Homo sapiens: one gene and its partners. The protein of the gene in region 1 purifies or fractionates together with the protein of each later gene. This does not show direct contact. Each region holds a gene or a part of one and is shown in the gene's direction. Other genes may lie near its edges.

What was found.
Region 2: the proteins of ADCY7 (region 1) and AMIGO2 fractionate together in Homo sapiens (co-fractionation; one large-scale study listed by BioGRID). This does not show direct contact.
Region 3: the proteins of ADCY7 (region 1) and MME fractionate together in Homo sapiens (co-fractionation; one large-scale study listed by BioGRID). This does not show direct contact.

The regions. Positions count from the first base shown.
Region 1 is NC_000016.10:50,272,996-50,276,643, forward strand, and holds part of ADCY7 (adenylate cyclase type 7), read left to right. Parts: intron 1-1,135; exon of another isoform or gene 1,136-1,203; intron 1,204-3,648. UniProt on the Homo sapiens protein: Catalyzes the formation of cAMP in response to activation of G protein-coupled receptors.
Region 2 is NC_000012.12:47,077,718-47,081,465, reverse strand, and holds the start of AMIGO2 (amphoterin-induced protein 2 precursor), read left to right. Parts: upstream 1-1,506; 5' UTR 1,507-2,004; exon of another isoform or gene 2,005-2,217; 5' UTR 2,218-2,324; intron 2,325-2,400; 5' UTR 2,401-2,463; coding exon 2,464-3,748. UniProt on the Homo sapiens protein: Required for depolarization-dependent survival of cultured cerebellar granule neurons. May mediate homophilic as well as heterophilic cell-cell interaction with AMIGO1 or AMIGO3. May contribute to signal transduction through its intracellular domain.
Region 3 is NC_000003.12:155,083,232-155,086,879, forward strand, and holds part of MME (neprilysin), read left to right. Parts: exon of another isoform or gene 1-811; intron 812-926; 5' UTR 927-936; coding exon 937-1,096; intron 1,097-1,827; coding exon 1,828-1,863; intron 1,864-3,648. UniProt on the Homo sapiens protein: Thermolysin-like specificity, but is almost confined on acting on polypeptides of up to 30 amino acids. Biologically important in the destruction of opioid peptides such as Met- and Leu-enkephalins by cleavage of a Gly-Phe bond.

The DNA.
Region 1 (3,648 bases):
CTCCTGGGCATGGGTACAAGAGCAGAGCTGCCCTTTGGGGGCAGGCAGGAAGTGAGGCTGAGACCCTGGTACTGAAGTGTGTCCCCAGTGCCTGTTTATGTCACGATTTCTCAGGCTGCTCACCCTGGTGTCTGGAGCTGACTGGGGTGGCCCTGGGTGATGGTACTTGCTGTGTGCCCACATCTACGTGAAGCCCCTGAGAACTGGTATTGTTACCAGTCCATTCTGTGGGTTAGGAAACTGAGGCCCAGAGAGGTTCAGGAACATGCCCAAGGTCACACAGCTCCTCCAAGGTGGAGCTGAGATTCACGGCCTGCTGTTGGATCTCAGAGCTTGTGCTCCCAACCACCATGCTTTCCTGCCTTCCCCTTCTGCCCTGCCCTGGCATTTCTTTTCCTCACTTGGCTCATTTATGACAATCTGCCCTCCTCCTGGCATGAGCTCCTCAGGGGACCCATGCCTGTCCTGTGTGTTGTAGCAGCAGCAGTGCCTGCACCTGCTGCAGGCAGGAGCTCAGTGGCACTTGGCAGATGGGGGTCTGGTGGCACCAACATGTGGCCTCTTTCCTGGTGGCAGGATGGGCCCCTTTCCATGTGCAATGGGGGTTTATGAGGTTTTATAGCTATGAGGTCACGTCACTGCTAGAATAGGCCATGGAGCGAAGAGAAGGGTTTCATCCCCATTGCTCAGGTGAGAAACTGAGTCCTGAGAGGCAGGTCACCTGCCAGAGCTCATGCAGTTGGGACTGGGGATTCCAGGGTTGGGGCCCAGTCCTTAGCTGCCAGTTCAGTGCTGGCTGTACCCCCCAGTCTGTGGAGTATGGGGTTTGATGTCCCTGTGTACCAGGCAGGGTTAGATCCTGGGAGCTGGGTAGTGCATGGCTGGACGTGCAGCCAGGTAGTGACAGGTCAGGGTAGCCTGTGCTTCTGTGGGAGGTGCAGGCCCTGGGGAAGCTAAGGAACAAGGCCAGACTGGGAGGGGACCAGGCAGCCTTCCTGGAAGAGGTGGCAGCTCAGGTTGGCCCTGAAGGGCGGGCAGGAGTTCGCCAGGCAGAAGGCATTTGGAGGTGAGGAGGTGGGCGTGTTTTTAGATTGCCGGAGCTGGAGATGAAAGGGTGGGGCTTGTTTGGGGAACCGAAATCAGCCAAATCACGCAGCCACAGAGGAGGCCAGGGAAGCTCTAGAGGCGTTTTTTGGCCAAGGGGTGAGCAGAGATCGGGCTTGGTGTTTTGGGGGGTCCTGGGTAGGTGTGGGAGGCCTCGTTTCGGGGGCCACGGGGCTCCTGTGGCGTGAGACTCCATCACAGTGACCTCCTGTGCCCAATAGCTCCGTAAGGGCAGGGTTTGTGGAAGGAAGGAGTGAGTGACCGGGAATGGGGTCTTGGGCTCCAGGGACAGCCATGGCGAGGGCTCTTCTGTGTGGGTGCAGGTCCGGAAGCTGGGGCTGTGGTTGGTGGGGGAGGCTGGGTGGGGCTGCTTCCCCTGCAGAAGGGCTCTTCCGGGCTCTTGGCGCGGTTTCACGAGGCAGTCCCCTCTGTGTCTCTCGTGCCCCCTAGGCCTGGATCGGGTTCTCAGGAAGCCTCGGGGAAGTGAGGGTCTTAGCGCCTTGGTTTGGGGCTGGGCACTTTGCGAGCTGGTGTCATGGAGGCCAAACTGGGGGCCTCCGGGCCAGGTGGTGGCTTCAGGCTTGCTGTTGGGACAGGAGGCCAGGCTAGGCAGTGACGCCTCACTGAGCTCCATGGGTGGCACGCTGAGCTCTGGGTGGGAGAGGCCTCTCCCACTGACCTCTCTGTGACTGGCTTCTCTGCTGGTCTGAGTGGGAAGGGCCCTCAGAGACCCTGGAGGCCTTTCCTGCCCTGGAGGAGTCAGGCCCAGAGAGGGTGAAGAATTGCCCGAGTCACACAGCTGGTGACAGGGAGAGCTGGGACTGTACCTTACATCACCTGACATTCAGCCCAGGGCTCTATTCCCTGCACTGTGGCAGATGGGGAAACTGAGGCAGGTGGGCCACTCCTCTGCATTCCATGGGAGAGGCAGGAAATTCGACAGGAGCCCTTTGCCGGGTTGGCACTTGGAGCTGTTTTCCTGCTTGCTTTTCCCCAGGGCAAGGTGCTTCCCAGCTGAAAACTGCCTAGGGAGGGTGCTGTTGAGACCGTGAGCACCTGAGAGCCCTGGTCTTTCACTCAGGCCTCTCCTCTCACCTCCACCTGGGAGGCTAAGCTCAGGGTAGGTGTCCTGGCCCACAGGCAGGTGCATGGGCTGGTCCCGCCAGCACCTGCAACCTTCTTGTGCGCAGCTAGCCCAACCTGGGGTCAGGTGGAGGTGGGTAAGTGGGGCCCCCAGCATTAAAGAGCTTCATAGGCTGTCAATTAAGGGGAGGCTAGTGGGCTCTACAGGCCACAGCTACCCAGGGAGCCTTCTTAGGGGAGGAGTTCCTAGGTGGGTCTCAGAGACTCCAAAGTCAGCATTTCCCAAAGGAGGTTCATTAGGGATTCAGTGCAAAAAGAGTCTCATTAACAAAAGGATGGGGAAATGTTCAGCTGTGTTTAATTCAGCAGGCTTCTTTCCTGCAGGACTTGTCAGAGCCTTTAATTTGCTAATGTGTATGGGGGATCTTTAAATGGGGAAGAGGAGAATGTTGAGCTCAGCACCACCTGTGACCAGAAATGGCTGTGGATGTGTGTGGCTGCGCATATGTAGCTTTTCATGTTCCTGCTTTTGGGCAGAATGCACCTCAGGAAATGCAGATAGAGAGTTAATCTGCACTGGGCCTTGGAGAGGGGCAGGCCTGGGTTCGAATCCTAGCTCCACTGTTTCCTAGCAGGTGGGCTTTGGGCTTGGAGGTTAAGGTCCCAGAGTCAGTTGCCCTGGCTAGAAATGGAGCGAGAGCACCCCCGCCCACCACCCTTGGGTAGCCCAGCCCATTCATGGTTCTCTGCAGGTTCTCAGAGGAGACAGCCAGCCAGGTGGTTTTTGGCCCAGTTTGTCTCCCGGCTGGGCTCAGAGGTCGCAGAGCTTGTCTTGAGGCCTGGGTACTGTGCCGTCTCCTGCCAGCAAGCCTGGAAGGCTTGGGCCGAGGACCCGACTCTGCCTGGGATGTCACCTGTGAGCTCCCTCCAGCTCAGACCAATATCACCACCTCCCTCTGACCTGGGTTGGGTGGGACGGCTGCTCCCTTGAGGCCCAACTAGGCCCTACATGGAGGGGTCAGCCCACACTGCCACTCATGGCCCTGGAAAGCCGGCCTGAGTTGCTGACCAATGTTCTCTCTACCTCCCAGAGGCTGGGCACTCACAGACCAGAGTAGGGGCCGGGCCTCCTCACCCCCAGTGCTGCTGGCTCATGGCAGGGTTGAGGGGTGGGGACAGGTGCCGGGCCCTCTCACTTCTGCACCCCATGGCCCTTTCTGACATCTTGGTGATGCATGCCATCTAGACTGGGGCATTTTGCGCCAGGGGTGGCTCAGTACACTGCTTGCATCACCCCCAACTGAATCCTTTCAAAATCCTGTGGGGTAGGACTGTTATTCTCCTTTTGTTAAAATGAGGAAACTGAGGCACAGAGAGTCTGTTGGGTCATGTAATGTATTATTTGTTTTAATATTTAATTTATGAATGAGTGAGATGGAGTCTTGCTCTGTTTCTCAGGCT
Region 2 (3,748 bases), on another chromosome or scaffold:
AGATTTATTAGTGCTAGCCCGGCTTTATTCCACAAACAATTCTATTTAAATTAGGTGTTGGTCTAACAAATCTGCCTGACCACAGCAATGACTCACGGACCATGTAGGAAACAACTTTCACTAAATTCAAGATTGCTCAAGTGAAAAGGTGCGCGGGGGAGGGGAGGAAGAGTTGGTTGTCCTCATCATTTTTATTTTTAAGTAATATTACAAGTTATCTATCCTGCCCCAACTGTTTCCTCAATTTGGTTGCTTTTCATTCCACTGTGGTTGGCATCTTTTGTCAAGGCAGTAATTTATTTCTTTTAATCCGGATATAATGGCCAAATGGGCGATCTGACTCACTCAAATCCCATCGTTAAAACTTATCTTGGAATTAAACAAAAATGGATTTTTAATCGTAGAGCTCATCAGCCTCATAGTCTCCACCTCATTTCTGAATGGCCTTGTTCGGCTTGCACCTTCTGTGCTTGCTGAACCAAAGCGCGCTGGTCGGCCGCGGCATCTCCGGAAGGGATGAAGAGCCTCCGCGCACACGCCCCTTACTTCCCTGTCCCGCACGCGCCACGAGCACGCTTGCAAAAGACGGGGAGGTGGCGGGGACAGAGACAGAGGAAATGAGAGAGAGAGAACGAAAGAGAAAGGAGAGAGAGGGAGAGAGAGAGGGAGAGAGAAGAGGGGAAGGAGAAGAGAGAAAAAAGAAAAAAAGGTCTGCTCTGGGATTATTATTATTATTTGGGTTAATACTCTTATCTTTGCATTCCAGCCGGAAGGTCGGCTCCAAGCCTTCTTTCCTGCCCTCCTCCTTCTTGAATTGGACACCATCCCTGTTGCCGCCTCCTGAGTCAGGAAAGGGATAGAACTTTCCCAGGGAGGTGAGGGGTGTCCCCGTGGCGATTTCCCGGTTACTTCCTCCCAGCAGATATCCCTGTGGAGAGGAAACGTTCCCGACTTCCCTCCCCGCGACCTCCTCCCTAGAAACGAGCGGAGACGTCAGGCTGCTTCTGGGTTTATTTTGTAAACCCAGACAGTCAACTGCACTTGGCGCAGGCAAAGCCTCCTTGGCCCTTGCCCCAAAGCAAAGCTCTAAGAGGTCCGGGGATTCCTTGGCCTGGGTGGGGAGAGAGACGTGACCTGTGCGGCCGCCGCGAAGTGGGTCTCCAAGGGTGAGACCCCTCCCTCGGTGGCTGGGCGTGTCCCCTTTAGCCTTCCTGGACCCCATTACCGCCCGGCTTGGAGCTGGACGAAGGGACGTAATTGGTAGGCGAGTGGGTTGGGCATCTTGACTCAAGGACCAGAGTCTGGGCCTCTGGTGTGGACCCCTGCCCCCTCCCCGCTCTGCGCGGCCGTTCTAGAGGTCCGGGTGGGAGCTGGAGGAGGAAAGCGGGAGGAGGCGGCGAGGCCGCGGGGCGGTATGAGGGGGCGCCGGCCGCCTCTCGGATTGGCTGCGCCGCCGCCCCCTCCGCATCGCGCGCCCCCCACCACGCGCCCAGCCTGCTCCCTCCCGCAGGCTCCGAGCTGCTGCCCGCAGGAGGCAGGACGCGCAGGGGTGGGACCGGCGCCCCAGCCCGTCTCCCGGCCCCGGGCGCGCGGGAACCCCGGGTCCTGCAGCCTCCCGAGTGCGGAGAGGCGGGGCCGCCCGCTGCCGCCCGGCTGCCTGCGCCCCCTCCCGCGGCCCCGGCTCTGGGAGCGGGGCGCCCCGCGCGCGGGCACACGGCGGCCAGAGCGCCGAGGCGGTACCTTCAGCCTGCAATGAGAGGAACCCGGGAGAGCCCCCGGGAGCCAGCGAAGAGCTTGGCTGCTGCGTCCAGGGCTGCTGCTGCCGCCGCGGCTGCTTGAAACTCCTCAAAGTTGAGAGCCGGCTAGAGGGTGCCGCCCGCCGGGAGCCGGAGGGAAAGGAAGTCGGAAGGTGCAAGAGTGACAGACACGGACAGACGGACGCGCAGACCTTCGGAAGGCACTGCGTAGGCAGCCTCCCCGGAGCCCACGAGGCTCCCCAGCACCGTGAGTTTTTTCCTGGATGGGTGGTTGCTAAGTATTTCCGTTTAATTGTTTGTAGCGTACGTTTGCGTATAGTTGTGTCTGTTGGAGGGAGTTTAAAACAACAACAACAACAACAACAACGCAGGATGCACCTTAGGAAAAAATTGAGTTTCTGATGGTGGGTGAGACGGTGGGTTGTATGGAGAGAATGTGACTGTACATTTTTATAAGCAGGACTAACCCAGGAAAGAGGAAAAAATACATTTAACAGTGAAGAGGCAACACAGAGCTCCCTATTGTGAAATAAAACCCATTTCAAAAGTTATTGGAAAGAAAGTAAGGTATGGCTCTTATGGGTTAACTAGTGGTAGTCAGTTTCTGCTTTTTACTCCCTCTGAATTATTAATTGTTTGCCAGGTTCACTGGTGGGAGGCTGAGCCGGTGGAAAAGACACCGGGAAGAGACTCAGAGGCGACCATAATGTCGTTACGTGTACACACTCTGCCCACCCTGCTTGGAGCCGTCGTCAGACCGGGCTGCAGGGAGCTGCTGTGTTTGCTGATGATCACAGTGACTGTGGGCCCTGGTGCCTCTGGGGTGTGCCCCACCGCTTGCATCTGTGCCACTGACATCGTCAGCTGCACCAACAAAAACCTGTCCAAGGTGCCTGGGAACCTTTTCAGACTGATTAAGAGACTGGACCTGAGTTATAACAGAATTGGGCTTCTGGATTCTGAGTGGATTCCAGTATCGTTTGCAAAGCTGAACACCCTAATTCTTCGTCATAACAACATCACCAGCATTTCCACGGGCAGTTTTTCCACAACTCCAAATTTGAAGTGTCTTGACTTATCGTCCAATAAGCTGAAGACGGTGAAAAATGCTGTATTCCAAGAGTTGAAGGTTCTGGAAGTGCTTCTGCTTTACAACAATCACATATCCTATCTCGATCCTTCAGCGTTTGGAGGGCTCTCCCAGTTGCAGAAACTCTACTTAAGTGGAAATTTTCTCACACAGTTTCCGATGGATTTGTATGTTGGAAGGTTCAAGCTGGCAGAACTGATGTTTTTAGATGTTTCTTATAACCGAATTCCTTCCATGCCAATGCACCACATAAATTTAGTGCCAGGAAAACAGCTGAGAGGCATCTACCTTCATGGAAACCCATTTGTCTGTGACTGTTCCCTGTACTCCTTGCTGGTCTTTTGGTATCGTAGGCACTTTAGCTCAGTGATGGATTTTAAGAACGATTACACCTGTCGCCTGTGGTCTGACTCCAGGCACTCGCGTCAGGTACTTCTGCTCCAGGATAGCTTTATGAATTGCTCTGACAGCATCATCAATGGTTCCTTTCGTGCGCTTGGCTTTATTCATGAGGCTCAGGTCGGGGAAAGACTGATGGTCCACTGTGACAGCAAGACAGGTAATGCAAATACGGATTTCATCTGGGTGGGTCCAGATAACAGACTGCTAGAGCCGGATAAAGAGATGGAAAACTTTTACGTGTTTCACAATGGAAGTCTGGTTATAGAAAGCCCTCGTTTTGAGGATGCTGGAGTGTATTCTTGTATCGCAATGAATAAGCAACGCCTGTTAAATGAAACTGTGGACGTCACAATAAATGTGAGCAATTTCACTGTAAGCAGATCCCATGCTCATGAGGCATTTAACACAGCTTTTACCACTCTTGCTGCTTGCGTGGCCAGTATCGTTTTGGTACTTTTGTACCTCTATCTGACTCCATGCCCCTGCAAGTGTAAAACCA
Region 3 (3,648 bases), on another chromosome or scaffold:
TTGTGTAGTCTTGAACACGTTGCCTGACTTCTCTGTGCCCCAGTTTCCTAATTCTTTATTCTATTCTGTGGCAGTGTCCACTTTTTGGTTTAAAGTTTTTAACACATCTCCAGTTGAGGTGAAAGATTTTAGGAATACAGGTATGTTTTTGCATACCCTGCTTTATACAGGACTACAAGTATCAACTTGGTAACTTTTTGTACTATTTTGTTTACTTATCCCCCTTACTCCCCTCTTAAATGGGATTGGGCGTGGTTAGGTTGGATATTCAGGTATCTTTTGGTACAGTGAGTGACCATTTTCAGAATGTTGTCTAACCAGTTAATAGATACTGGTATCAGTAGTAGTAGTAATTTTGAACTGTAAAAATAAAGGTTGTTTTTATGACTAAAATAAACTACTTCATGTGTTCATTCGTTTTGCTGTTTATCTATATTAATATTTCAAATTATTGCTTAGTCAAAACCTCAAGGTATTAGTCACTGGTTTTTGAGCTTATAAAGGAAGCCACTGGAGCAAGATATAAAATTAACCATTGATGTTAGTCCAGAGTTCAAAAGGGTGAGTTTAAAACTTTCTTAATGATGGTACAGCAATTATTTGCTTATAAACTGCTGAATTAATCCTACTTGAGTATTTAACCAAGTCTTACTGTCTAATTTTGCTGAGATTTTCAGTGATATACCAAAGCAAAACAAAACAAAACAACAGCAACAAAAAACAAAAGGTTGTGACTGAGACCTGTCAAATTCATTTGGCTCTATATACTTTGCATTCAGCAACAAAATTTTGACTTCTCAACAGCAAAAATGTATTTCTATTTTAAAATAACTGAGCCTTTTACTTTTATCCAGCCACATTAAGCATTTGGACATTTTCTTTTTTATTTATTTGTTTTTCATTATTAGTATTTTCATTTTTTGCAGATTTTAGGTGATGGGCAAGTCAGAAAGTCAGATGGATATAACTGATATCAACACTCCAAAGCCAAAGAAGAAACAGCGATGGACTCCACTGGAGATCAGCCTCTCGGTCCTTGTCCTGCTCCTCACCATCATAGCTGTGACAATGATCGCACTCTATGCAACCTACGATGGTGAGTTACTCCCACACCTGTGCATCCATAAGTGCAAAAGAGAAGGAAATCTTCCTCCATGCTTTTACCATCTATCCAACGAATGTGTTAAGGATAGAGGCACTTAAAGACTGACAAAGAGATTCATTTATAAAATGTAACATCAATATGTCAAAATAATTAACTTTGAAGTACGGTGCCTTTTATGTTTGAGCTAAGTTATTAATTGCAAGTATATTTAGTGCGCTCACGCTTACTTATGAGGAATCTAAAGTATGGTTTTATTTGATTAAAATATACACAATTTTATGGCCAGCTTTAGTAATAGTCATTAGTCAACTTTTGTTGTGTCATTGAAATTCTAAACGGCTTCACAGGAATTTAACAAATTTAATTTGAGTCTTGGAAGTTTTTTACAACAAGGATGAAAAAAGATTGATTGTTTAATGGTTAAAAAAATGATTACCAAGCAAAAACAACTGATTATTTCAATTTAATAGGCCTGGGGCTTCGTTGGTAGAGAAGATATAATAACACATTTTTCTTCATAATCAAAATTTTAAATTTAGATTTTACTTATTTTATTTTCTTATATTTTTTCTAACCACTGACAATGATATATAATGTTCAGTTTTTAGTTCTTGCTTTAAGAAATTGCTTATTTAATTGGCAGTTTTTAAAAGAACAAAAGAAAAATAGAAATTTAAAAATTTGTGTTGCCAATATTTATGTATATTCTCTCCTTTTTCTAGATGGTATTTGCAAGTCATCAGACTGCATAAAATCAGGTAAGAAATGGTTTTTACGTGTAATAGTTATACAACTGATGTATAATATTTAAAATTAAATGCTAATCTTAATTTGCTTTGTTTACACTTTTATTCATTGTAGATCAATTATTTATGTGTCTGGCTCTATAATCAATGGAAATAAAAATATATTTAAGTAGTAGATTAATTAACTTGTTTACTCTGAAAAATATATTACTATTTTCAGCCCTGGGCTGTATAGCAGGGCAATAGAAAACTATATCGCTATTTGTATGGAGCTTGCCATGTAGTTGAAGAAAGAAAATGAACACATATGAAATGGTAAGTTTCGTATCATTGTGTTAAATGTCTCAGTGCACCTCACTAGGTGGGTGAGAAGAAGGGAGTGAGATGTAGGCATGTAAATCTAGGTGGAGAAGTTAAAATCTGGGAAGAAATTTCATTTTATTTATTTTTTTTATTTTTTATATTTTGAGACAGAGTCTCGCTCTGTCGCCCAAGCTGGAGTGCAGTGGCGTGATCTCGGCTGACTGCAATCTCCGCCTCCCGGGTTCTAGCAATTCTCCTGCCTCAGCCTCCCAAGTAGCTGGGACTACAGGTACCCACCACCACGCCTGGCTAATTCTGTATTTTTGGTAGAGACGGGGTTTCACCATATTGATCAGGCTGGTTTCGAACTCCTGCCCTCAGGTGATCTGCCCCCCTCGGCCTCACAAAGTGCTGGGATTACAGGCGTGAGCCACCGCACCCAGCCTTAAATTTGGGAAGAACCTTGAAGCAGGGCTAGAATTTAGATGTGGCGGTGCAGAAGAGGGAATTCCAAACACAAAAGAAAGAAACTATGTTATTGAGAAGTAGTAAAAGTGTACGCTTGATAGAAGGACACATTATGGAGAACCTTGAAATCCATGTTTAGCCTTGATATTGTAATACAGGAGAAACAGATATTTTTGAACAGAGGAGTGATCAGGCCAAAGGTGAAAGATGATTCTGCGAATGTGAGGTTGACTGGATTGAGTGAAAAGGAGGGCAGGCAGGTGGGGGCTGCTTCTGTACTCCAAGTGTAAGCTGAAGAGGTTGGCCTGTGGTGAGAGAAGAGTACTATTGAGATAATGGGGAGGGAGAATTGGGTGACTCAGTAGAACTGACTTGCTAAATAAAATGAATGAATTGAGAATGATGCCAAGTTTTAAAACCCAAGGGACTAAAGAGAATGGAGGCAGCCCACACAGAAATAGAGAGGTTATGAGGTGGATGTGGATGTGTTTGGTCTAAGATGAAAATAGACAGGAGGAAGGTAGAGATGAGGTTTAAGAAGCTGGAATTTGGATTTGAGATCTGTCAGTTTAGGAGTGATAGTGGAAGCCTTGGAAGTATTTGAGTTCTCAAAAGAAGAGAAGAGGTTCAAGGGCTAAACTTAAGAAGAGGTTCAAGGGCTAAACAACATCAATGATTAGAAGAGAAGAAAAATAAGTCAGAGCAGAAAACAGAGAAGTGTATGAAGCTATATAAATCCCATCAATTGGAGTGTGGTGAAAATGGGAGTATTTCTTCTTTCTTCAAGAAAAAGGAAGGTGGTAGCTGAGGGCAGCACCTGGGATATGAACACAATATTTGTGTCCTTTAACAAGAGATTCTAAACCTCCTTTCTAACATCTATGTGTCTTATAAGAAATAAATAAACTGTTCCAAATAATTTTAACCATTTTCTGCTGGATATTTTTAATTTTATTTATTTATTTATTTGAGGCAGGATCTTGCTCTGTCACCCAGGCTGGAGTGCAGTATTGTGATCACAGCTTA